3 separate regions of the Homo sapiens genome follow, and regions 1 and 2 are each linked to region 3. The links come from fine-mapping of genetic effects on gene expression. A gene starts in region 3. Each other region holds a variant in brackets. All regions are shown on one strand. Distances are between the middles of the regions.

The links.
Region 1: its variant is fine-mapped to the expression of BAIAP3 in whole blood (INTERVAL, PIP above 0.99).
Region 2: its variant is fine-mapped to the expression of BAIAP3 in whole blood (GTEx, PIP 0.99).

The regions. Positions count from the first base shown.
Region 1 is chr16:1,385,690-1,393,862 of GRCh38, reverse strand. It overlaps UNKL (unk like zinc finger), which reads left to right. Exons shown (of 15, transcript NM_001372107.1): 8 at 887-972; 9 at 3,169-3,231. Among named protein-coding and RNA genes, the nearest start is that of UNKL-AS1, 19 kb to the left of the region's middle. The variant A/G (reference allele first, on the strand shown) is at 3,755.
Region 2 is chr16:1,374,582-1,382,754 of GRCh38, reverse strand. All of the region lies in intron 10 of UNKL (unk like zinc finger), which reads left to right. Among named protein-coding and RNA genes, the nearest start is that of GNPTG, 27 kb to the right of the region's middle. RefSeq lists silencers at 2,983-3,122, 3,153-3,232, 3,273-3,322, 3,393-3,462 and an enhancer at 7,084-7,583. The variant G/A (reference allele first, on the strand shown) is at 4,520.
Region 3 is chr16:1,329,239-1,337,411 of GRCh38, reverse strand. It overlaps BAIAP3 (BAI1 associated protein 3), which reads right to left and starts at 3,767. Exons shown (of 34, transcript NM_001199097.2): 1 at 3,663-3,767. It also overlaps the pseudogene RPS20P2. RefSeq lists silencers at 3,718-3,877, 4,613-4,813 and an enhancer at 5,590-5,639.

The DNA of each region.
Region 1 (8,173 bases), 56 kb before region 3:
CTGAGCCTGGAGGCTGAGTCCTGGTGTGGGCTGGCTGGCACCTCCACCTGCCTCCTGGGCATCCAAGCTGGGTCCTTCTGCCACCCACTGCCTGGGCCTTGCTCCGAGACTGCCATCTTGCCAGGCACCCACCCAGGAGCACCACCTCCCTTGTGGAGAGAGGGGGTCTGTCCGCCCCAGCTCGGGGAGACAGCAGAGACCCTCAAGCAGGGTTGCTCAGGGTGACCCTGTGCTTTCCAGAGCCCGTTTGCTGTCCAGGGGATGAGGGCTTAGCTTTGGCGATTATGTGGTCCCTAATAAGTTCCCAGCAGCAGAAACAAGCCCCAGTGGGAACCCACGCGGCCTCCTCCACGCTGCAGTGGGTTTCCTTCTGGCAGCCCTGGGGTTTGGGTTCAGTGGGAACCCACGCGGCCTCCTCCACGCTGCAGTGGGTTTCCTGGCAGCCCTGGGGTTTGGACTCAGTGGGAACCCATGCGGCCTCCTCCACGCTGCAGTGGGTTTCCTCCTCGCAGCCCTGGGGTTTGGGTTCAGTGGGAACCCACACGGCCTCCTCCTCCCAGCCCTAGGATTTGGGTTCCAGGTTTTGTGTGTGTGGTCACAAGCTCAAATTTTCCTTTGTTTTTTATTTTAGTGGGGAGGGCAGCTATTCTTGTTCACGTTTTAAACATTGCTTTTAGTGTTAAAAACATGAAAAACTGGTCTAAGACCAGAGGGTCCTGTTGCCCTGAGTGTCCCCACCACTGCCCAGCCGTCCTCTGCCGCACCCCTGAGGGATGATTGTGACGAGGCTGCGCACACTCGGCCCTGACGTGTGGTGCGGAGACTTCTGCGTGTCACTGTCGCCCACCAGCGGCCCTCAGAGTCTGCTGCTCCCCTGTCCTTGCAGAGAGCCTGGGGATGGTGAATGAATGGGGCTGTCACGACCTCCACCTCACGAGTCCTTCCTCCACGGGCAGCGGCCAGCCGGGAAATGTAAGTGAACGGCCTTCCCAGGACAATGCCCAGTGTCCTTTGGTTTAATTGAACTCTTAGGGATGTGGATGGATATGAGTTTTCAGCAATGTGGTCGTGGGCAGTCTGTGGAGTTCGTGGCTCTTCTAGAAGAGTCTAGAAAAATCCTTGCCACTAGGCTGGGGGCAGTGGCTCACGCCTGTCATCCCAGCACTTTGGGAGGCTGAGGCGGGTGGATCACCTGAGGTCAGGAGTTCAAGACCAGCCTGGCCAACATGGTGAAACTCCATCTCTACTAAAAATACAAAAATTAACCAGGTGTGGTGGTGGGTGCCTGTAATCCCAGCTACTCAGGAGGCTGAGGCGGGAGAATCACTTGAACCCAGGAGACGGAGGTTGTGGTGAGGTGAGGTCCCGTCATTTCACTTCAGTCTGGGTGACAGAATAAGACCCCATCTCAAACAAAAAAAGAGGGGGGAAGAGGGGGTTGGGCTTCTAGGAAGGTAAGGCTATGGGGGAGACTGGCGGAAGGTAAGAGCAACTTCAGTGAGGTTGGTTATGCAGCCTCAATCTGCAGTCTCTCCTCCTGGTGTGGAGAGGGGAGAGGACACCTTCACAGAGGGAATTCACGCCCGGCTTCGAGGCAGGAAGGAAGCAGAGAGCTGCTCCTGCATCTACTGTTTCTCAGCTGCCTTCAACTCAAAATAATCTTTTTGTCAAAGAGTGGCATGTTTTGGGGTGGCACACTCTGACTCCCTTCATATATTTCTTAACAGTTTCACCTGAGCCTCTGCCTTAGGTGAATGGCTCGGTTTGGGGTTTGATGCCATGGTTGGTTCAGGGAGTGCAGAGCTGGCACCCTGCCTTCACACGGACCAACCCAAGGTCAGAGAGCCACGTTCAAATGTAAGAAATGGAACTCAGGGCCGGGCGCGGTGGCTCACGCCTGTAATCCCAGCACTTTGGGAGGCCAAGGCGGGTGGATCACCTGAGGTCAGGAGTTCGAGACCGGCCTGATGAACATGGTGAAACCCCATCTCTACTAAAAATACACAAATTAGCCGGGCGTGGTGGCGTGCGCCTGTAATCCCAGCTACTCCAGAGGCTGAGGCAGGAGAATTGCTTGAACCCGGGAGGTGGAGCTTGCAGTGAGCTGAGATCGCGCCACTGCACTCCAGCCTGGATGACAGAGTGAGACTTTGTCTCAGAAAAAAAATGAAAAGAAAAGAAATGGAACTCAGGAGAACCGACAGGGAGCCAGCAGGTTCAGGCATCTCTTCTGTTTCATGAGACCTTCGAGATTTGGCATCTTTGGCCAGTTGCAGTGGCTCACGCCTGTAAACCAGGCACTTTGGGAGGCTGAGGTGGGACAATCGCTCGAGGTCAGGAGTTCGAGACCCGCCTAGGCAACATAACAAGACCCTGTCTCTACAGAAAGCTTTGAAAAATTAACTGGGTCCACTGGCAAATGCCTGTGCTCACAGCTTCTTGGGAGGCTGAGACAGGAGGATTGCTTTAGCCAGGGAGGTCATGCCACTGCACTCCAGCCTGGGAGACAGAGCGAGATCCTGTCTCAAAACAAAACAAAACCAAAAATAGCATTCGTCTAAATTCTGAGCAGAGCTTATGTGTGTGTGTGTGTGTGTGTGTGTGTGTGTGTGTGTGTGTGTGTATCTTTAAGGGACCAAGAGTACTGCTGAATAGGTACATATATATTGTGTGTGTGTGTGTGTGTGTGTGTGTGTGTGTGTATTTTTTTTTGGAGACAGAGTCTCACTCTATCACCCAGCCTGCAGTGCGGTGGTATGACCTTGGCTCACTGCAGCCTCCACCTCCTGGGTTCAAGCGATATCCTTTTTTAAATTTTTTATTCTATTTTTTGAGACGGAGTTTCACTCTTGTTGCCCAGGCTGGAGTGCAATGGTGCCATCTCGGCTCACTGCAACCTCCACCTCCTGGGTTCAAGCGATTTTCTTGCCTCAGCCTCTCGAGGAGCTGAAACTACAGGCATGTGCCACCACGCCTGGCTATTTTTTGTGTTTTTAGTAGAGACAGGTTTTCACCATGTTGGCCAGGCTGGTCTCGAACTCCTGAGCTCAGATGATCCGCCCGCCTCAGCCTCCCAAAGTGCTGCCACTGTGCCCAGCCTGAATTGTATGTTTTTAATTTACATTTCCTCCCTGCTTTTTCCACATATGACTGTTTTTTATGTTGCAGGCCAAGCGGAGAGACTCGCCGGCCGAGGGTGGCCCTAGGGGCAGCGAGCAAGACAGCAAGCAGGTACAGGCCCCCAAGGTTTCCCACCCTCGTGCCTGATGTCGCGTTAGGGCTGAGGCTTCCCGCCCTCGTGCCTGACCCGTGGCATCGCGTTAGGGCAGCGCTCATGCATCCTTGGTCCCGCCCACTCTCGGCTCGCAAAGCCATCTGGTTGACGTCCGCTTGTTGTAGAATTAGCTCTTTCCTGGTACCCCCGTGTTTGTCTGTTTGAAACGTTCGTGTTATACCTTGGAAACAAAGCCACAACATCGTGCTCGGGGAAATAAGAGGGGCCCTTTGGAGCCCATCTGTGTTACTTTTTTGGGCTGCGAGGGAAGGATGCAGATGGGGCCGTTCCAACAGCAGAACTTGCCGGGCACGGTGGCTCACACCTGTAATCTCAGCACTTTGAGAGGCCAAGGTGGGCGGATCACGAGGTCAGGAGTCCGGGACCAGCCTGGCCAACATGGTGAAACCCCATCTGTACTAAAAATACAAAATATTAGCCAGGCATGGTGGCACGTGCCTGTAGTCCCAGCTACTCGGG[A/G]AGCTGAGGCAGGAGAATTGCTTGAAGCCGGGAGGTGGAGATTGCAGTGAGCCGAGATCGTGCCACTGCACTGCATCCTGGGTGACACTGTGAGACTCTGTCTCTGAATGAATGAATGAATGAATGAATGAGGTAGTTTTAGTTGGGCACAGTAGCTCACACCTGTGGTTCCAGTACTTTGGGAGGCTGAGGCAAGAGAATTGCTGGAGCCCAGGAGGTGGAGGTTGCAGTGAGCCAAGCACTCCAGCCTGGGCGACAGAGTGAGGCCCTGTCTCAAACCAAACCAAAACCAATCCCCAAGCAGCAGCACTTGACTCTCTCAGTTCTGGGGGCTGAGTCCGAGCTTGAGCTGTCCAGAGCTGGCTCCTGAGGCCCCCCGGGTGCAGATGCTGCCTCCTCCGTGTCCTCTGGGGTCACCCCTCTGTGCGTGGGCATCCCTGGGGTCTCTTCCTGAGGACAGTGGCTGCGTAGGGCCCTGCCCCCACACCTCATTTCATTGTTGCTGTTGTGTTTTTACAGATTCTTAAATTTTTTGAGGCAGGGTCTGGCTGTGTCACCCAGGTGTAGTGCAGTGGCCAAGTCCCAGCTCACTGCAGCCCGGGACTCCCAGGCTTGAAGCAGTCCTCCCACTTCAGCCTTCTGAGTTGCTGGGACCCCAGGCATACACCACCAGGCTTGGCTAATTTTTGTATTTTTTTAGAAATGGGGTTGCCCAGCCTGTTCTCGAACTCCTAGGCTCAAGCAATCCTCCTGCTTTGACCTCCCAAAGTGTTGGGATTACAGGTGTGAGCCTCCACGCCTGGAGTAAGAACTCATTTCACCTTAATTACTCCTCACAGGCCCTATCTCCAAATTTAGTCACACCGGGGGTCAAGGCTTCCACGTAGGAATTTGGGGGGGACACGTTTGGTCCATAACAAAGACACTGTGCTGACTGAAATGAGCCAGTTACCGAAAGGCAAAACCTGCGTGATTCCACTCACAGGAGGTCTCTAGTGGAGTCACATTCACAGACAGCAGGTGGCATGGTGGGGGCCGGGGCCGGGGCCGGGGGAGGGGGCAAGTGTTCACGGGGTCAGAGCTTCCGGCTGGAAGATGAGGAGTTCTGGAGGTGGACGCGGTGATGGCTGCACAGCGGTGTGGATGGAATTCATGCCACGTACTACACCAAACCATGGCCACTGTAGCAAATTTTATATTATATTTCACTATAATACAGAGAAGAAAAACCAGGCAGGCAGTGCTGGTGGTAGCTTGGGGTGTGCTGTCCCCACGGGGCGAACGGTGCTGGTGTTAGCGGAGGTGCGGTGTCCTCATGGTGTGAACGGTGCTGGTGGTAGCGGAGGTGTGGCGTCCCCACGGGGAGAACGGTGCCGGTGTTAGTGAAGGTGCGGGATCCTCACGGAGCTCTCGTCTGACCCCTCTCACTGTGCCCATCCCTCATGTGGATGGACTCCCACACCAGGCCCGTCATCTGTGGCCATTGTGCCTTGGGGTACAAGGAGTGACATGGATGTTGATGATTTTCAGGTGATCGTTTGGGCTGAAGTCACAGTGTGCGCATCACCCTGGCCAGCTCCCGGGCAGGGTCAGCATGGGGTCTGGGGGGTCACTCAGGGCTGAGGCTTCCTCTCTGGTCCCTGTTGGTTTATGGCCTCCAGTAGGCTGGGGAAGGCCTCCGGGGTGGAGTCCCCTCCTGCAGACAGGCGGGAAGGAGGCGGCCTTGGCTTCTGAGGGTGCTGCATTCACCCTGGGCCGGGCAGCGCTTTGGGAGCCTGAGGCTGCCTGTCCCAGCCGAGGGTCAGCCCGTGCCCAGCCCTCAGATCAGTGCTGCTTTGGGGGCAAACGTGGCACCTGCACTGTGGTGCCTCCTGGCTTTCTGCATTCTTGGGCTCTATGCAGACACAGGTGCGGGGCACAGACTCCCTGTCCGACCCAGGGCGGGGCAGGCCTGCTCTGCAAACCCCAGCGTCGTCCACGGCTTCTTGGTGGGCCCGGGGCCCTTCCAGGCAACAGTCCCTCAGCTCTCCCTTACATGGGAGGTGGCCTCTGGGCCTGGGTGATGCTCTGGAGTTGGGTTCAGGCAAGGACTGAGACGCCCACAGGGGTCATGGAGCTGAGAGGACATCCACAGGGGTGACTGTGACCCGGGCGGTGGCCTCTAGGCTACTGGTGGGTCAGGACATGGGGAACCTCAGCCTGACTGAGCAGGGGCAGCTTGTGTGTAGGGACCGTGCCCCAGAGCACGGACCTGGGCAGACCCCGGGACACAGGGTGGGCTGCCAAGAGATGGGATGAGGCGGGGGTGGGGGAGGGCTTCCGCAGGCCGGGCAGCCGTGCGGCGGTGCAGTGTCCACGTCCCCGGAGGGCCGGGCAGCCGTGCGGCTGTGCAGTGTCCACGTCCCCGGAGGGCCGTGCGTTGCCATCCTGAGCTTTTGGTTCTGAGTGATAGCTGCTGGATGCGGTGAGCTCAGCAGACCGCCCCACGTCACTCACCCCTTGCTGGTGCCTGCCTCCTCAGCCCCACAGCCCAGGTGGCCCTGTCCTTTGCTGGTAGAGAAGGTCGGCTCCCTCCCCGATCCAAGCCATCGGGGTACAAGGAGCTCCCAGGTGTGCGTTGCTCCTGGATGTCTGGTCACCAGAACGTCTGTCAAGAGGTCCTTCTCAGCCTTCCTGGGGCCACACTGAGGGTCTGAAGCAGGGACAGGAAGTGCAAGGGATAGGGGGCGGGTTGCCACTGAGATGGCACCAGGTCTCGAATCACCCATAGTGTTTCTGGGCTGCTTGCTGGAGAACATGAGGCTTCCAGCAACCCTGTCACCAGGCTCACCATGGGGGATTGATAGGGGGTATTGGCAGCACCATGCATGGCTGGGAGTGTCCCCGGTGTTGCATGGCTGGGAGTGTCCCCGGTGTTGCATGGCTGGGAGGGTCCCCGGTGCTGCATGGCTGGGAGGGTCCCCGGTGCTGCATGGCTGGGAGGGTCCCCGGTGCTGCATTGCTGGGAGGGTCCCCGGTGCTGCATGGCTGGGAGGGTCTGCGGTGTAGGGTGCAGGAGTTACCGCCGTCCCTGATGCTCACGGGGTGGACTGTGGTCCGTTTTTTCATGGCTTGAGGAAAAGTGGTCTCTGGGCCAGGGAGAGGAAGTGGATTATGGACGAGGGGGCAGGCCCCTTCTCGCACCTGGGCAGGGAGCTCTGGTGGCTGTCTCCAGACTTTGCAGCTGGAGGGGACTGTTTTCAGAGTCAGTCACGGGGGGCTCTGTGCACCTCCTGGGCCGTGGGCTGAGGGGCAAATCTGGTATCCAGAAGGAAGCCAGGGCAGGCAGCAGGACCCTTAGGTCACAGAAGCCAGGAGCCAGGCGCGTTCTTGTCGGGGATTTCTGATCTTTAGGAAATGCACATTAAAATTTCTTCATTATGGACAGTTTTACTTAAGGAGACAAACTAGTAAAATCACACCTCCCAAGGTTAACTTTTTCTGCATTACTTTGCAGCAAAACCCAGATATCATACCATTTGAATTGTAATATTTCAGGATGCAATTCATTTTTTTTGGAAACAGAGTCTCTCTGTTGCCTGGGCTGCAGTGCATTGGTGCGATCTCGGCTCACCACAACCACTGCCTCCCGGATTCAAGCAATTCTCCTACCTCAGCCTCCCAAGTAGCTGGGATTACAGGCGCCCACCACCACGCCCGGCTAATTTTTTGTATTTTTAGTAGAGATGGGGTTTCTCCATGTTGGGCAGCCTGGTCTCGAACTCCTGATCTCAGGTGATCTGCCCACCTCGGCCTCCCAAAGTGCTGCGATTACAGGTGTGAGCCACCGCGCCCGGCCTTGGCTAATTTTTTTTGTATTTTTAGTAGAGACAGGGTTTCGCCATGTTGGCCAGGCTGGTCTCGAACTCCTGACCTCCAGTAATCTGCCCACCTTGGCCTCCCAAAGTGCTGGGATTACAGGCATGAGCCACTGTGCCCAGCCAGAAACTCATTCTAATCCAGCTTTTGATGCTTGGTTTTGCAGTGACCTCGTAGGTGGCTCTGGGTCTTTTGTGTCGGGTGTTTTCTTGTGAGCAGCACCCTCCCCGTTACTGGGTTTTTATTCAGCACTGCTCTGTGTGTTGCTCTTTTTCTTTTGATCTATTATCCACCAAATACAGATCATGTGAATTGCCCTGTGTTTTACTTTCCCTGGTGACGAGGTCACAGGACCACGCTATGGATGTTTTGGAAGTGGTGCTGGATCTCTTTTTAAGTCCCTGGGAGGACATTTCTCTGGGGGCCCCCCAAGGTGCTCAGGAGCCAGTCCTGGGCGAGAGCCGGGGCGGGGGCACCCAGGAGGTGTGGGGAGAAGGGCAGGCAGGCTGCACGGCTTGCCCCTCGGGCTGGCGGGCTCCTGGCCGCTGACACATCTTTCTG
Region 2 (8,173 bases), 45 kb before region 3:
AACTCCCAACCTCAGGTGATCCTCCCAACTCGGCCTCCCAAAGTGCTGGGATTACAGGTGTGAACCATTGTGCCCGACCTGCATTTTTTAAAGGGTCTCTTTCACAAATACTGGGAACTTTTGTGGCCGTGTGCATCTCCCCCTCGCAGCCCTGGTGTTCCTATGTGGGCTCTGTTGTGCACCTGCCGGAGAACCCTCCAGAATCCAGGGCCAGTCCCTCCCTCAGGAGGCCATGGGGAGAGTGGGAATCCTGGATGGACCCAGCGCCCAGTGGTGGGGCTTGGTCGGGGCGGGGGCAGGGGCACAGGCGCAAGCAGTGTTTGCGTTTGTTTCGTCCTCACTGGCTGGGAGTATGGGGCTGCCCTGCCCAGGGAAGGGCTCCTCATTTCTGCCTTGCCATGGAGGGCTCACCTGGTTTCAGGACAGGACTCAAACTTCCGCCCTCCGGCCTGTTTTGGAAGTCATCTTCTCTCGGAGCCTCTATGGAGGAGGAAGCATGTGGTGTGGGATGTCTCCTGTTAGGGCTTCACCGTAAAGGGTAGGTTTTTAAAACTGTGAATACTCCATGGGTGGGAGTGCTGTGTGCTGTGTTAAGCTTTCTCTCAGGCAGAAACAAGCCCACATGTGTTTTCAGTTTGAAACTAGGGCGTACATGTTGTTCCTCTTGAACAGAGAGGTCTCATGAGTTGAATATGCTGGGGTGCCCACCCCCATCCCATTCCATCCCAGCCCAGGGACAGAGCACTTGGAGATCACCACAGGTGACGGCCTTCCCTGAGTTTGTTTTTGTTCATTTTGGGGTTTTATTTTTTAAGACAGGGTCTTGCCCTGTCACCCAGGCAGGAGTGCAGTGGTACAGTCAGCTCGCTGCAGCCTCCAACTCCTGTGCTCCAGAGATGCTTCTGCATCAGCCTCTCAAGTAGAGCTGAGACCACAGGCAGGCACCACCGGGCCCGGTGAGAACATGCTAGTTTTAATTTGAGATCACTATCATACATGGGTTGCATAATCCAGGGCCCTGGATCTTACTAAATCACACCCTCAAATTCACACATCCCCTTCAGAAACTCAGAGGTCAGGGATGAAGTCTACACAGTGGCTAAAGCTCCATGAGGGTCTGGCCTCTGAGCAGGTTCTTTTTTTTTCTTGCTCTGTTGTGCAGGCTGGAGTGCAATGGCACAATCTTGCCTCACTGCCACCTCTGCCTTCCGGGTTCAAGCGATTCTCCCTCCTCAGCCTCCGGAGTAGCTGGGATTACAGGTGTGTGCCATCATGCCCGGCTAATTTTTGTATTTTTAATAGAGACGGGGTTTTGCCATGTTGGCCAGGCTGGTCTCAAACTCCTGACCTCAGGTGATCCGCCCACCTCAGCCTCCCAAGATGCTGGGATTACAGGCGTGAGCCACCACACCCGGTCACTTATTTTTTTCTTTTAAACAAATAAGCACACATTCTTTTTAAATAAAGTTTCTCTTCCCCAACCTAAAAGTAGTAATGCTAGAATTTGAGCATAGCAGAAAAATATTTAGGAAAATTAAATCCCAAACAAGAGAGACCATCTTGGACTGTGCTCACTCGGGTGGAAAGTCGACCCAGGTGCCTGTGTGCTTGACAGAGGCGTGGCTGCATCCGCGTAGCTGACCTTCAGATGGACTGGAGTTAGCACATTTGTAGTCATTTTTCCAACCATTCTTTCGTATCTGAGGTACGTTTTTGACCTGTTTTAGTATGTCACTCGCGATCTTGAAGCACACTCTTTCATTTACTTAAATATTTCCTGAGCCGTGAGCAGTGGCTCACGCCTGTAATCCCAGCACTTTGGGAGGCCAGGGCGGGTGGATCACCTGAGGTCAGGAGTTCAAGACTAGCCTGACCAACATGGTGAAACCCCATCTCTACCAAAAATACAAAAATTAGCTGGGTGTGGTGGCTTGCTCCTGTAATCCCAGCTACTCAGGTGGTTGAGGCACGAGAATTGCTTGGACCGCAAAGGCGGAGGTTGTAGTGAGCTGAGATCGTGCCACTGCACTCCAGCCTGGGTGACAGAGCGAGACTTGTTCTCAAAAAAAAAAAAAAAAAAATCCTGAACCAGCTACTCAGAGGTGAAGAGATGGATTTTTTTTTTTTTTCAGGATCGACACTGCCTTAGTTAGAGGCAATGTATTGTTGCTGCTGCTGCGGCTGAAATTGTGAGCTTTGCCACCCAGTGCCAGCCTCACTTTTTTCCTCTGTCCATGTCTGAGACATCGCTGTAAAGTTACATCCCTGCACTAGCCACAGGCACTGGAGGCAGTGTCCTGCCCGCTGACCCCAGGGCACTCCTGCGCCCCAGGCTCAGGGACTCCCTGCCCATGGCTCCCGGGACTGTCTGGCCCCAGGTGTAGGCCCGCCTGGCTGCGTGTGTATTTTATTAGCTGTTGTAGAGGGTTTTGGACAAAGCTGGTGTGTAGACTGGGTCGTTTTTTCCTTGTGTTAATAGTACAGTTTCCTTCAGGTTGTAGGTGTACTGTGACTGGAGCACGGAATAGAAGAAATGAGCGGATTCTGTATTTAAGGGATTTTTAGTGGGATCATTTCAGACCCATCTGATAGGTTCCATTTTCCTTCATCTTACACTTCATAGGAACAGGTTTCAGATTAAGAGAGACCTGCGAGCTCCGTACCCCGCGTTTAGATGGGGCTGGGCAGGCACGCGGACTTGGGAGGGAGGAGGGTCCTGCAGGGCAGGCAGCGGCCCCAGCTCACGCCGCCCCGCCCCGCGAGCGCCCCTGTTGGGTCGACCGTGTTTCACCTGAGTCCGCCCGGAGCAGCTGCAGGTGCAGGTGGGCAGGGCAGGAGGAGCCGGGCAGCGGGGCAGCTCTGGGGCTTTCTGCCTGAAGACCTCTGGCCCCCGCTGCCCGCGCCCACTTGCCCGCCCAGCTCGTAGCCAGGAGCCGCGGGGACCGGGTGCGCCCGAGTCGGGGGGAAGGTTGGGGGAGGGCAGCGCGGGGGGCGTGGCCAGTGCGACGGGGGCGGGGCCGAGTCACGTTGCGGGGCGGGGCCAGCGCGGAGGGGGCGGGGCGCGGGCCGGGTTTGAATCCCCGGCGGCGGCGCGGGGCGGCCGCGGACCGTGAGTCAGCATTGGCGGCGGCCCCAGCGCGTGGCAGCCGTGCGCCGCCAAGGTGCGGGTCTCGTTACTCGGCGGTCAGGAGCGGGCCCTCCCTTAGGTGCGCCCCCCGCCAGGTGCGTCCCCCGCGTCACGGAGCCGGGTGTGACAGCCGCGGGGTGGGCCCGGGCTTCTCAGAGGCCCGGAGCGAGGCGAAGGCGTCGCCTTCTCGGAACCTGCCTCTGCCGGGCGCTCGCCGCTTCCCAGCGCGGGCTCGGGCCGCCTGCGTCCCCTAGCTAGGCGGGGTCGGTGCCCCGAGGGAGGGCAGGGGAGCGGGGCAGGAGAGCGGAGCGGAGCGGGGCAGGAGAGGGCAGGGGAACGGGGCGGGGGAGGGCCGACCCCTGCGTCCTGGCCTGGCCCGCCTGCACTCAGCCCGCGTGGTACGGGAATTTCCCTGGCGTCGGCGGCTCCCCCGCCCTGTCCTGAGTTCCGAGCAGTCTGTAGCTTGTCCTCGCGTGTCCCTGACCCCGGGGGACCGCGGCGCCTTGAATGTGCTGTGTCACGGCAGAGCCGGGCTGTGTCGCGGTGACTCAGCGGGGCCGGTGGTTTCCTAACGCCCGGGGCTGAGGCAGCCTGGCCTGACCCAGCTGTACTCGCTTAGGTGACCAGCCTCACCTAGATTTTGCCTCTGCACAAGGGTCAGCTCTTTCTTTGAGAATGTTTCAGAAGATCTGGGTCTAACCTTGAAACAGTGAGGTGAGGTGGGGGAGAAGCTGCGGGTGAGAAAGTGGGCCAGGACGGTGCAGCAGCCGTCTCCCCCCTTGATTTCTGGGAGTGAGCCCTAGATAGCACCCTAGGGGTGGTGGAGCCTCCAGGACCCTCTCCGGTGCTCTCTTTGGATGAGGGGCACTTGGCTTTGAAGCGGGGCCGGAGTCTCTCGGGGGCACCCACACGCTCCCTGAACGTCCCCTCTCCAGGCAGCTTCCCGGGCTTCAGCACAGGTGACTTGGCTGAGGTAGGTGGTGGCTGACGCCCTCTGAGTTGAGTGCGAGCCGTAGTTTGTCGGGTGAGCATTGAAGGCAGCTTAGCCCCTCCACATGCTGCGCACTCTGCAGCTGGTGGGTGAAGCTTCTGCCGACTTAGCACGGAGCCTGGTGGGATCACCCCACTCCAAGGGGAGAAAAGGCGCCTCCGTTCCTGTCCCCCAACTTCTTTGCGTCTTTGATTTTCATGAGGAGTTTCTGGATCTCTGCCAGGTGTGAGGGGCGGTGAGCTCTGAAGGGGCTGCCATATCCTGATCCTGGGACTTGGGTGCAGAGGGCAGGTCCAGGTTCCCGAGCCTGGCTGACCTGACTATGGGCAAACCGCTTGGCCCTGCCCGTCATCAAGCCCCCGTATGGGAGCATGAGGGGGCTGTGGGCAGGCCTGCGGGTT[G/A]GGGGGTCGGTGCCTGTCCTCAGTGAGTCTGTCCAGGGCCCTGACATGGTTCAGGCTGACACCTGCAAGGATGTAGTGGGGGGCATTCCATGCAGGGCTTGGAGGCCGAGCAGCTTTCTGGGGACTGGTGTGGCTGATCTTACTGAATGGAAGGCACAGCCAGGCTGAGCCTGCAGTGGCACAGCAGGTTAGGAGCCCGGCAAAGGACCCATTGGGAAGCGGTGACCGGCACGCGCAAGGGCACAAGCTTCCTCCTTTCTTGCAGGTCAGGATTCAGGATGCAATGAGGCTTTTCTTGGTAGGAAGGTTACTATTGCAATGCATGAAGGCAGGCTGGGCATGGGCCTCAGGGGGTGTGGGTTGAGCGAGCAGCCCATGAGGAAGGGATCCTGCAGTGCCAGCTTCCAGCAGCCCCTGCACACGTGGTGTCTGGGAAGGGCCTGCAGTGGGGCCATGGGAACAAGCAAGGGATCCTTTGCCAGGGAGGAGGAAGGGCTTTGGCCCCTGCTGGACATCTGGGCTCGGGGCTGCAGAGCCACTGTGTTGGGCGGGTCCAGGCCACAGGAGAGGCTGCCAGCCCTCAGGGAGGAGGGTGGGCCTGGGAGGGAAGCTGGTGCCTATGACAAGAGGCAGTTCAGGGCACAGGCGCAGGGCTGGAGGGAAGGGCCCGGGGCAGCGGTGGGCAGAGTGAGTGGTGAGGAGGCCCCAGAAAACAGCTGCAGGGGGAGTGGAGGCAGAGGGGGGGTCTCCTTTCTGAGGGAGGACTCAGGGAGGGAGGGCTGTGCACAGCAGGGGCCAGATCTGTTGATACAGAGTCCTGAGGGGCCTGGGGAGGACGGGCAGGACCAACAGGGGCATCTGCAGGTGGGCCCCCATGTCCTGGGTTGAATTGTGTCCCCTGAAAGTTGCATTTGAGGCTGGGCATGGTGGCTTGCACCTGTAATCCCAGCACTTTGGGAGATGAGGCAAGCAGATCACCTGAGGTGGGGAGTTCATGACCAGCCTGACCAACATAGAGAAAACCTGTCTCTACTAAAAATGCAAAATTAGCTGGGGGTGGTGGAGGGCACCTGTAGTCCCAGCTGCTCAGGAGGCTGAGGCAGGAGAATAGCTTGAACCTGGGAGGCGGAGGTTGCAGTGAGCTGAGATCGCGCCATTGCACTCCAGCCTGGGTGACAGAGCAAGACTCTATCTCGGTTGGGGGGGCTGGGTGTGGCGGGGGAAGATGCACCTGAACCCCAGGCGTCGCACCTAGGTACGTGGCGTTGCAGGGAAACACAGCAGGTCCTCTTATCCCAGGGTTCGCTGTCCACTGCCTCATTTGCTGGTGCGAGGTCTGGGTTCAGGACAGCAGTGTACAGCATTTGCGCAGGTAACTTTTATTACTGTGCGGTGCTGAAATCTATGTTACCAGTTAATCTTGTTAATCTCTTACTGGGCCTGACGTGCAAATGAGGACGTTCGTATAGGAAAAAGCTTGGTATATAGGGGTTCCGTGCTATCCGCAGCATCAGGCGTCCATGGGGGGGTCTTGGAATGTATCCCCCTGCTACAGATCGCAGGGTGCTACTGCAGGGTCCTCATAACCAGGTTAAAATGAGGCCGGTAGGGTGGGACCCTGAGCCAGTGACCAGTCTCCCTATAAGAAGAAACTTGGACAGACACTCGGAAGAGGTGGCCCCCAGAGCAGAGGCAGACACTGGAGCCACGCAGCTGCCAGCCATGAAGGAGGATGGACGCCAGGAGGAGGAGTGCACCCCAGCCCTGGAGGGAGGAGGAGTGTGCCAGCCCTGGAAAGAGGGAGGAGGAGCATCCCCAAGCCCTCAGAGGAGGGAGGAGGAGTGCCCCAGCCCTGGAGGGAGGAGGGAAGAGGAGCACCCCAGCCCTAGAGTGAGGGAGGAGGGAAGAGGAGTGCCCCAGCCCTGGAGGGAGGAGGGAGAGTGGAGGAGGAGCGTGCCCCAGCCCTGGAGAGAGGGAGGAGGAGCGCCCCAGCCCTGGAGGGAGGAGGGAGGAGCATGCCCCAGCCTTGGAGTGAGGGAGGAGGGAGGAGCATGCCCCAGCCTTGGACTGAGGGAGGAGGAGCGCCCCAGCCCTGGAGGGAGGAGGGAGGAGCGTGCCCCAGCCTTGGAGTGAGGGAGGAGGAGCGCCCCAGCCCTGGAGGGAGGAGGGAAGAGGCCCTGCCCGCCACAGATCTCACTTTCAGCCTTGGAGCCACCTGTCCAAGGCCGCTCAGTGCGTGGTCCTCTGCCACTGCCTGCAGTGTCTCGGCTCTGCTGCTCAGCACGACTTCAGTCAGGCTTTGAGGTCTTGCCCTCTTCAGCCATGGCCTGAGAACGTCAAGTGGATGACAGCGACCGGGAGGGCTGGCCCACCCTGCAGGCCAGGGTGGATGTCCGCTCAGGGACGCCACCGTCCTGTGAATGGGAAGGAGAGGAGTGAATGGCTCTGGGTGCGGCTGGCCCAAGGCCTGCCTTTGGCTCCGCCGATGAGCATCCTTGAGGGCTGAGGCATTTTCGGATGCTACTGTGGGTTCCTGGTCCCCAGGGGGTCTTGGCCTGGCTGCCCCGACCCCCAACCTGTTACTCTAGTTTCTGGATAAGACCTTCGAAAGTCCCTAAAAGCTTCATTGGAACGGTGTCTCCGTGGGAGTGGAGGCCACTCCCGCATGCGCCGTGTGCCGTCCCGGACGCCCCAGGGGTTCAGGTTCTCTGCCCTGGGCCCTGCTGCCTCTGTGACGGGATGGGGAAGGACAGTGTTGCCAGGTGGCGCCACAGCCCGGCCTCCACGCCCCGGAAATTCCCTCACGGCTGGCGTGTGGACGAGGGTTGAGTCTGGGTCGTGCTGTGCGGTGGAGTGGGGTGGGGGTGGCCTCTGCCTTGCGGCCTCTGGAGTCCACCGTCCACTCCCGAGCCAGGCTTCTCTCCCGCCTGCCGCTCTGGGTGGTGGAGCACGGTCTCCACACAGTGTGGCTGCTGAGCGCGGCCAGATTCGGGGTGAAGTTCAGAGGCCCGGACCTGCCAGCTGCGCCACGTCCACGCCAGCCTCTGCCTGTGCTCCGCTGGGGCCACCACCGCGGCACGAGGATACTCCGGCTGCCCTGGGGGGCTCGGGGGGTGTGACCGCCGAGCGCCAGGCCTCGGGCGAGGGGCCACCCGCCACCCTGTGGTTGCTCCCATGGTCCCCGTGGCGCTGACTGGTGCCAGCTGCTTCCAGGGAGGAGAAGCGGAGGCCTGGGCAGAGGGGTGAGGTGCAGGCCACGTGCCCCACAGCTGTGTTCCCGACAAATCTCATGTGCGGCTAGGGCAGCGTTCTTCTTCAGAAGTCACCCTCCTGCCTTTCCTGCTGATTATGCTGAAAATGTCTGGAAAGGCCCCAGCTGTCTTCCCCGGCAGAGTGGGGTTTTGTCCCTCTGCGGCCCCTTGGCTGCCGAGTCCTTGTTTCTCCAGCTGTTTTTTGGGATGCCCCCTGTGTGGTGAACCTGCTGTCACCCTGACATGGCCACCAAGTCCTGACGAGTCAGCCCTGCCTGGCTCAGCCAGCTCCCTGCTGGGTGGGGTGGGTTGTGGGGAGTGAGGCTGCAGGAGGTCTGCGAGGGCGGGACTCGATGTCGGGTAGGTGGGGCAGTGACCGCCTCTTTGCTTCTGCTGGGCCCCA
Region 3 (8,173 bases):
CAAGTAACTGGGATTACAGGCGCCCGCCACCAAGCCCAGCTGATTTTTTTGTACTTTCAGTGGAGACGGGGTTTCGCTATGTTGGCCAGGCTGGTCTTGAACTCCTGACCTCAGGTGATCCACCAGCCTCGGCCTCCCAAAGTGCTGGGATTACAGGCATGAGCCAGCACCGCCCAGCCCACCTGTGTCAGGGAGGAAGGCCGGGTGGTCCTGCCCTGCACACCCCCTTCAACAGGGGTAGGATGATGGCTAAGACACCGTAGCCTCCTGAGACCCTCTTCCTCTGCATGGGTGCAGGTGCAGACCCTCCACCTCTGCACTGCCTCTGCCCCCCAGCAGCCCCAGGGAGGTCTCCTCCCCGCTCCATGGAAACTGTCCCAGAGCCAGGCCACCTCTGCCCCACCACAAGAGAGGTACCCACTCTTGGGTTCCTGTCCCAGCCTTGCCGGCCTCTGATTTCTAGGACACCGCGCTCCCCCAGCCCCCCGGGGTCCTGGCCTTGCTGTCTGGGTCCCTTCCCTTGCCAGTGCTCCCTCATCCACCTGCGGAGGGTGCCTCCGGGCTGGGCACACTGGCCCTCGCAAAGGGCATAGTCATTCTCACGGGACAGGAGAGGAAACGAAGACCAGCAGGTTCTACCGCCCACTCAGGCTCTCACGGACAGTTGGCCCTGCATGCCAGGCCAGCTCCCCACAGTGGCACTAGACTCATAAGCTCAGTGGGCAGCGTGGGGGCCTGAGCACACCATGCCAGTGGTGGGTTCCAAACGGACTTTGTCGAGCCAGCTCCCGGGCCCCTGCTGTGTCTGTGGGGGTTCAGGGTCACCAGCCCCAAGCTATACCCACACCAGCTCAGACACCATTCCCGGATATCTCGTCTTGATTCCAGGGTCCCTGCCAGCCCCCGAGCCCTGGGTGCAGGCTCTTACGGGACCAGACCCTAGAGCTGAGGACAGGAAGGAGGGTTTGCGTCTCCCACCCTGTGAGAGGCAATGCTTGCGGGGGGGACTCACCTCCTTCAAACCTATCAGTGCCTTCCCCTGTGAGCCTCCCCCCCAAAAGATGGGGGGGCTTGGTAGGCTGGGTACAGTGCTTCTGGAAGCTGTCACCCCCACAGCCAGTCGTGAAATCCTCAGGGGCCTGGGAGTCACAAGCCCCCTTCCCCTCCCTTGCTGGGTGGAAGAGGCTGCTCCCCCTGCTGTCCCCCGAAGCCAGTGGAGCAGCCGCTGCTGGAGCTGTTGCCAGGGCAACCGCCGCGGCATGTGCGTGTGACAGGGGCGATGGGGGCTCGCAGTCCTGGAGACAAATGTGACGCAGGAGCCAAGTGGCCTGAACTGCGGGGTTGGGGAGGGGGTGTCTTTGTGATAACAAGATGTTCCAGGCAGAAAAAGGGGGCTCGGTACCCTCCCTGCATTTTCCTCTCCACATTCACCTCCTCATCCCCAGAGCGGCCCGAGAGGGGTGCCCTTTGCTCCCTGCATCTCAGATGGGCAAACGGAGGCGCAGGGCTGGGAGCCCGCCCAAGGTCCCAGAGCCAGCAAGTGGGCTGGGGACGGCAGTCAAGGTCTCTTTGGTGTCCCCAGTGCTAAGCTCCTGGGGCAACCAGCTAGGCCAGCCCCCCTGACCCCAACTGCAGCTCCTGCCCCTCCCACTGCCCGTTGCTAGGATGGGTGCAATAATGGCGTCTTGGCACAGGTGTACAGAAGACTTGGCTCATCCTGGGTGCGCAGAAACCCCTTTGGTTCCCCTGGAAACCCCAGGCTTCCTGGGCAGCTGATAGCCTGGCTGCAGCCAACTGCGTGGGCCCTGGGAGCCACCTGCCACAGAGGCCGGAGCTGCTGTGAATGGTGGGCATATGCATCTGTCTGTGACCAGTACAGGAAGCACTGGCTGCCTGGGTGGCTCTCAGCACTTACGGGGCAGGAGTGAGCCAGGTGCAGGGGACCCCCCGTCTTTCCCGTGGGCCCAGACGTGATGTAACTCCTTCCCAGTCTCTCACCCTGGGACAGTAGCATGAGGCAGGATGAACCCCCCCATACTCTGCTCATGCCTGATGCCAGGACCAGAACCACACTCCCATCTGTCCAGTGAGCAGAGGGAGGACCGCCAAGGAGCTCCTGCCTTGTGGCACTGGGGCTGAGCCACACCTGCCCATCCCACCTTGCTCCCTGGCTGTCCCCCAGGCCTGGGCTGAATGGGGAATGACATTTTGCAAGGAGGATGGCACATCTCATTTCACAGCCCAGGGTGGGGGCGACTTGCCCAGAGCCCAGATGTGAACCTGGGACTCTTAAGCCAAGCTGTCTCCTGCCAGGCCATTTGGGGGCTCAGGGTTGGGGGCAGTGAGGCAGCTGAGTCTGGGGGCAGCGGAGCAGAGGCTGGGTCAGCCTTCCTCCCCAGTGCAGGCTGTCTAGGAACAAACGCCTTCAACGTGTTGGGGGCGCCCTTCTTACCACATTTGGGGCAGGGGGTTAGCTGATGGTGCCCTGGGTGTGTGCCTGGGGCGGGAGGTGGCAGGACATCTGCCCCACAGGCTGGCTCTCCACGCTGCCCTCTTGGTCTTCTCTCCAGCTTCCCTGCTCTTCCTCCCTCAGCCCCCCGACTCCCCTTCACCAGGCCCTGGGGGTTTCCCGCAGGAATCTCTCCCTGGTCTCACCGACTCCTCCAGATGGCCCCTGCGAAGCCGATGGCGGTGCCCAGGTGCAGGTCACCTGGCGGGCCCGCTGCAAACGCTGCTCCCCGGGGTCTCATTCCAGTCGAACCCCGGGAATCTGCATTCTAACAAGCGCTGCCGGTGGCCTTGGGCTCCCCGAAGCCTCAGACGGCTGCCAAGGTCCAGCCGCTGGCGCCCAGCAGGAGCGCAGGAGACCGGAGCCCGAGGCGCCTTCTTCCTCCCCTCGCCCGTGTCTGCGCAGCGCTCCCTCCTCCCTCTGCTCACCGACCCCCTCCCTGCCCCGCCTCGCGGCACCCCCTTTCCCGGGGCCCCGGGCGCCCGCAGGAGCCACACCCCCAGTTCTATGGGGGTCTCTCCCCTCGGAGGGGGCGGGCGGTCCGGGGTGAGTCTGGGGGCGGGTCTAGTGTGTCACTTTAAACTCCTCCCCCGGAGACCCCGGCCCAGGCAAGAGCCCACAGCCCTTTGCCGAGTGGGGCTGAAGGAGGGGCCGCTTTGCACTCGCAGGGATTTCGGGGGGACTAAAGGGCCTTACGAGGACCTGCGGGAGGAGGGAAGGGACGAGGACGCTGGGGGGTGCAGCCCGCCCGGGAGGGGTGCTGGGAGGCCCCGGGCCCGTCTGCTCCCCCGGGGAGGGAGGCGCGGGGGTCGAAGCCTCGCTTGGCGGCTCAAGTGCGGGGGAGGCCGTCGCCAGCGCCCGGATACCCTCCCCGTCCGCTCCGCAGTGCGGACCCCACCGCCGCACCCTCTCCTGCGCGTTCGGAGGGGAAATGCCCCCGAGACCCCGCCCCTCCAAGCATGCGCGGCCTCAGTTTCCCCAGGGCCGAGGGGACGTCGAGACCTTCCCACCGCCCCCCGCCTCGGAGGCCACCCCCGTGCCTCCTGGGGGACCCGGACCAAGGGGGCGGCGGCCGTCGGTCCGTCCGGGTTGGGGCGCGGGGCCGAGCCCAGACGGCGGCCCAACAGCACTGGCCGCAGCCCGCGGCACTTACCGTGGGCCGGCGCGGGGATGGGGGGGCTCCTGGGGCGCTGCGCTCGGCACCAGCTCGGGGACGCCGAGGCACAGCTACCGCTCCCAGCCGCGCGCGCCGACGACTGAGCAACTGCTGGGCGGACGCCGCTGCGGGGGCGGGGTCTGACTGGGGGCGGGGCCGGGCCTGACCGGGGCGGGGCCTGACCGCGCTCGCCCCGCCCCCCGCGTCCACGGCGCCTTAGGGGACCCGGCCGGGGTCTCCGTGCCTTGAGCCGGGCCGGAGCCCCCTCCCCCGGGATGCGGGGCTGTGAGTCAACCCACAGGTGGCTGCGGGACGGGGAGCGGGCTTGGCTGCCTCGGGACCCCGCCTGGCCGCGCGCGCCCTCCCCGTGGCGCGTGGGGTCTAGAAGGGGGTGGTCGGCGGGGTCTCCTCCGCGGACCCCAGGGAAGCCACGGTCACGAAGACCAGCAGCGGTGCAGACCTTTCTGGAAGGGCCTGACTCAGGGACACCTCGCGGGCCCCGCCGCTCTCTTCTCGGGGCGGGGATGCGTCCTGCAGGGATCCACTCGGGACGCCCCACGCCCACGCGGACGGTCTGTGGGGCGATCGTCCCTGGGGCTCTGGTGAGGGCCCAGTTGGCGCTTGTGGGGTCACAGCCGGCCAGAGCCCCCGGAGCCCCTGGGGTCTGCACTGGACCCCGCCAGCCCCTCCCGGGTGGCTCCCCGCTCTTCCTCCGCTGCGCTGTCCTGGAACCCCAGCGGGCCCGCGGTCTCCTGCAGGGTTTGTTAAGGCATTGATGGGTCCTGTCCCCAACCCGCTGGTCCCGAAGTCTGGGTGGGGGCGCGATCTGCGTTTTTTCCCTTTTTTTTTCAGACAGAGTCTCGAAAAAGCTCTCAAAAATAGCTCTCAACCAGGTTGGAGCGCAGTGGCACCATCTCCACTCGCTGCAACCTCGAACTCTCCGGCTCAAGTGGTCCTCCCGCTTCAGCCTCCCCAGTAGCTGGGACCACCCGCCGGCTAATGTTTTTTGGTTTCTTTTGTGGAGATGGGGGTCTCCCTATGTTGCCCAGGCTGGTCTCAAACTCCCAGGCTCAAGGGATCCCCCTTCCCCGGCCTCCTAAGGCGCTGAGATCACAGGTGTGGTCCCCACGCCAGCCAGCGCCTGCACTTCCCAGCTCCAGTCTGCTGCCGCCAGTCCAGGGACCACACTTTGAGAAGTCCGTGCTAAGCATGGTCCTGTCGGGGGCCTGAGGCTCTCAGACTTGCCGAGGGCGCAGCGGCCCCCCGGTCGCACCTGCCCTTGGTCGAATACAGCTGGACACTCGCAGCCCTTTGGGGACAAGGGGTGGGGGGTGGTCAGACTTTGGAGTTTTCACCCGAAGGGCACCTGGGCAGCCCAAGGCCAGACAGGCTTCCAGAACACAGCTCTTCAAAGGGAGGGGGCCCGTCTGCCAACAACTGTCTTGGCTTCTGGATCCCAACTCACTCAAATCCATGCCCGCCCCACACCTGTCTGTGCAGGATCGGGGGCAGGACCCCTGGGTGGGCTCTCCTTCGGGACGCTCGGCCCAGGCTCTGCCGGATCCTGACCCAGCACAGCCAGGCCGGTGGGGGAGGGCAGGGAGCTTGCAGGAAATGCAGGGACTGGCTGGGACAGGGACGCGGTGGGGGAAGCAGGGGAGGGGGCCTGGGCCCTCAGCCCCACTCTGTAGCAGTGTTCTCCTGAGGGGCTGGTGGGTCTGGAGACCGGGTCTGGGAGTGACGCCCCTGCCTCTGCGGTCTTGCACCAGGTTCTGCCCACCTGTTGGAACAAACACAGGCCGGTTGCCATGGTGATCACACTGGCTTTAAGTGAAGGGACAGGCTCTGCAGCTACGGTAAACAGGAAGTTGGGAGGGGCAGCCGCTGCTCCGGCCCCTACGAGAGCACCAACCCTGAAACCAACACTGCAGTCCGTTGGGTGCGGGAGCACCCTTGGAGACCTCTCCCCACTCTTTTCTAGGTAGGGAGACTGGAGTCCGGAGACGGGAAAGGGCTTTTCCAGGGCCACATAGTGATAGGTTGAGTCCCAAACCAGCCCTGGGCCTCCGTTTCCCCAGGAGAGGACGGTCACTAGGACTGTCCCCTCCACAAACATTTGGTGAGGAGTCGAGGAATGAACGATCCGAGCGACACCCCACTCAGTGACCAAGGCCTTCATTCTCCAACTTGTTCTGAGGCTGAAGACAGGCTGACCTGGATCAAAGTCCCAGCACCCTGCTCACCCCTGCCCCAGGGCGACCCTCCACTGCCCGGGCCTCAGTTTCCCTCTTCTGTAAAATGGGGACAACAGCAGCACCCACCTTGGGTGCAGCTGGGGGACCTCAGTGAGCCAGTCTCAACTCACAGCAGGTCAGCCTCAGTCCCAGTTGGTGGGGATGGGAACTGCAGCCACCCAGCCAGAACTCCGGCCCCTCCAGTGACCCAATTTACCTTTCCATAGCTTGGGGCTGGAAGCCCATCCTCGCGTGAGTCCCCTCCCACTAAGAGAGAGGGCAGGAGAGTGGGCCGCCCACCCTCCCCACCCTGAGCCCCAGGCCTCACTCTGAAGGGGCTACCCTGGCGTCTCTGCCTTCGGACCGGAGTGCAGACAGCTGCCGTGCTCCGGGGACAGTGAGGGGATGGCGCAGGTGCAGGAACACCTCCCACCGATGTGTCGGGACACGAGACCCCCTGCCCAGACGGGGTCAGAGCTTGAGGAGGCTGCTGGGGCACCAGGGCTGCTTGTGCAAAGCTGAGAAAAGCCATTTTTCAAGCCTGGCTCTTTTCACATTCTCAGGACTTTGTGCTGGAAAGGGTCTGGCAGGCAGGGAGAGTAGCTTTTCCTCCTTAGGGCCGGGCCGGTGGCGGGGGGCGGAGATGGGGGGGCAGGTAAAAACACCAGGCTCTGGATACGCAGGCGCCAAAGCCGCTGAAGCACACAGGTGAGGCCATGGCAGAGTTAGACAGCCCCTCCTGTTCCACGCTCATGAGCACAGCGCAGGGCCCAGTGCTACCACCCTCTGGTGGCAGCCCTAGAAATTGCAGGCACAGCCTCCCAGAATCTGCCCCCAACTTCCCTCTGAGGACCCAAGCAAGGAAGGGCAGGGTCCTTGGAGAGCTCGTGGGGTCAGAGCCCAGGGACTCTGGCCAGGGACCCTGCCTGCCCCGGAGCTGGAGGACCCTGAAGACTGCCAGAACCTGTTCCTTGCCCCATCAAGAGAGGGGCTCTGGGTGGGAGGGCCTCAGCCCAAGTCTGGCCTCATGCCTGAGATGCTGGTCTCCAGATCCCACACCAGAAGCTCCGGGAGTCCTGCTGCCACGCGTGCACAGGTGGGGCCGGCTGGAGGTGACCACCCAGTGTCACGCTGGAGTTCTCTCAGGCCTCCGTGCTAGTAGCAGCATCTGTGAGGGGTCCAGGGCAGGGCAGGGACAAAGAAGTGGGCCCAAGACAGGGTCCTACCAAGCCCCCAAACAAAGGCCATTGGTGTGCCAGAGCCCTGCAGGCAGGACAGCCCCTGCTGCGGTGAGGCTTGGATGGCAGGGAGGATGGCACCCTGTCCCCTGGCCCCGCCTCCCACCAGCCTGAGGGTGGGGGTGTCAGAGGCCCCTTCCCAGCGAGATGGGCTTCTGTGCTCACTGTGGTTAGGGGCCCAGCAGGGAGAGGCCAGGCCCTCAGTGTGCATCCTTCTGTGCAGAGCTGGGGTTGGGAGGCGACTCCTCCCAGCTCTGGGGGCTTCAGAGTCCCTCCTTTTCTTTTTTTTTTTTGAGATGGAGTCTTGCCCTGTTGCCCAGGCTGGAGAGCAGTGGTGTGATTTCGGCTGTAACCTCTGCCTCCTGGGTTCAAGTGATTCTCCTGCCTCAGCCTCCCGAGTAGCTGGGACTACAGGCGCCCGCCACCATGCCCAGCTGATTTTTGTATTTTTTTGTTTTTTTTTTTCAACTGGTAATCAATTTATTAAAATAGTTGACTTAAGCATCTGCAATGGTGACTTCCACTTCAACTCCTGGCTCAATACTGATGGAAGTAATCTGCTTAACAATCTCAGAAGGACTGTGCAAGTCAATGAGTTGCTTATGGATGCTCATCTGGAGTTTTTTTTTTTATAAGTTTTTTTTTGAGATGGAGTCTTGCTCCGTCGCCCAGACTGGACTGCAGTGGCGCGGTATTGGCTCACTGCAAGCTCTGCCTCCCAGGTTCACGCCATTCTCCTGCTTCAGCCTCCCAAGTAGCTGGGACTACAGGCACCTGCCACCATGCCCAGCTAATTTGTTTGTATTTTTAGTCGAGATGGGGTTTCACTGTTAGCCAGGATGGTCTCAATCTCCTGACCTCGTGATCTGCCCGCCTCGGCCTCCCAAAGTGCTGGGATTACCGGCGTGAGCTGTAACCTGGCCTCATCTGGAGTTTTTCTTGTAGTGATTCTCAAAGTGTTGGTAGGATTCAAACCGGTCCTTTCACTTTGAGATTCTTTTCCTTTGTGCCTCTGATCAAGTCAGCACACACCTTT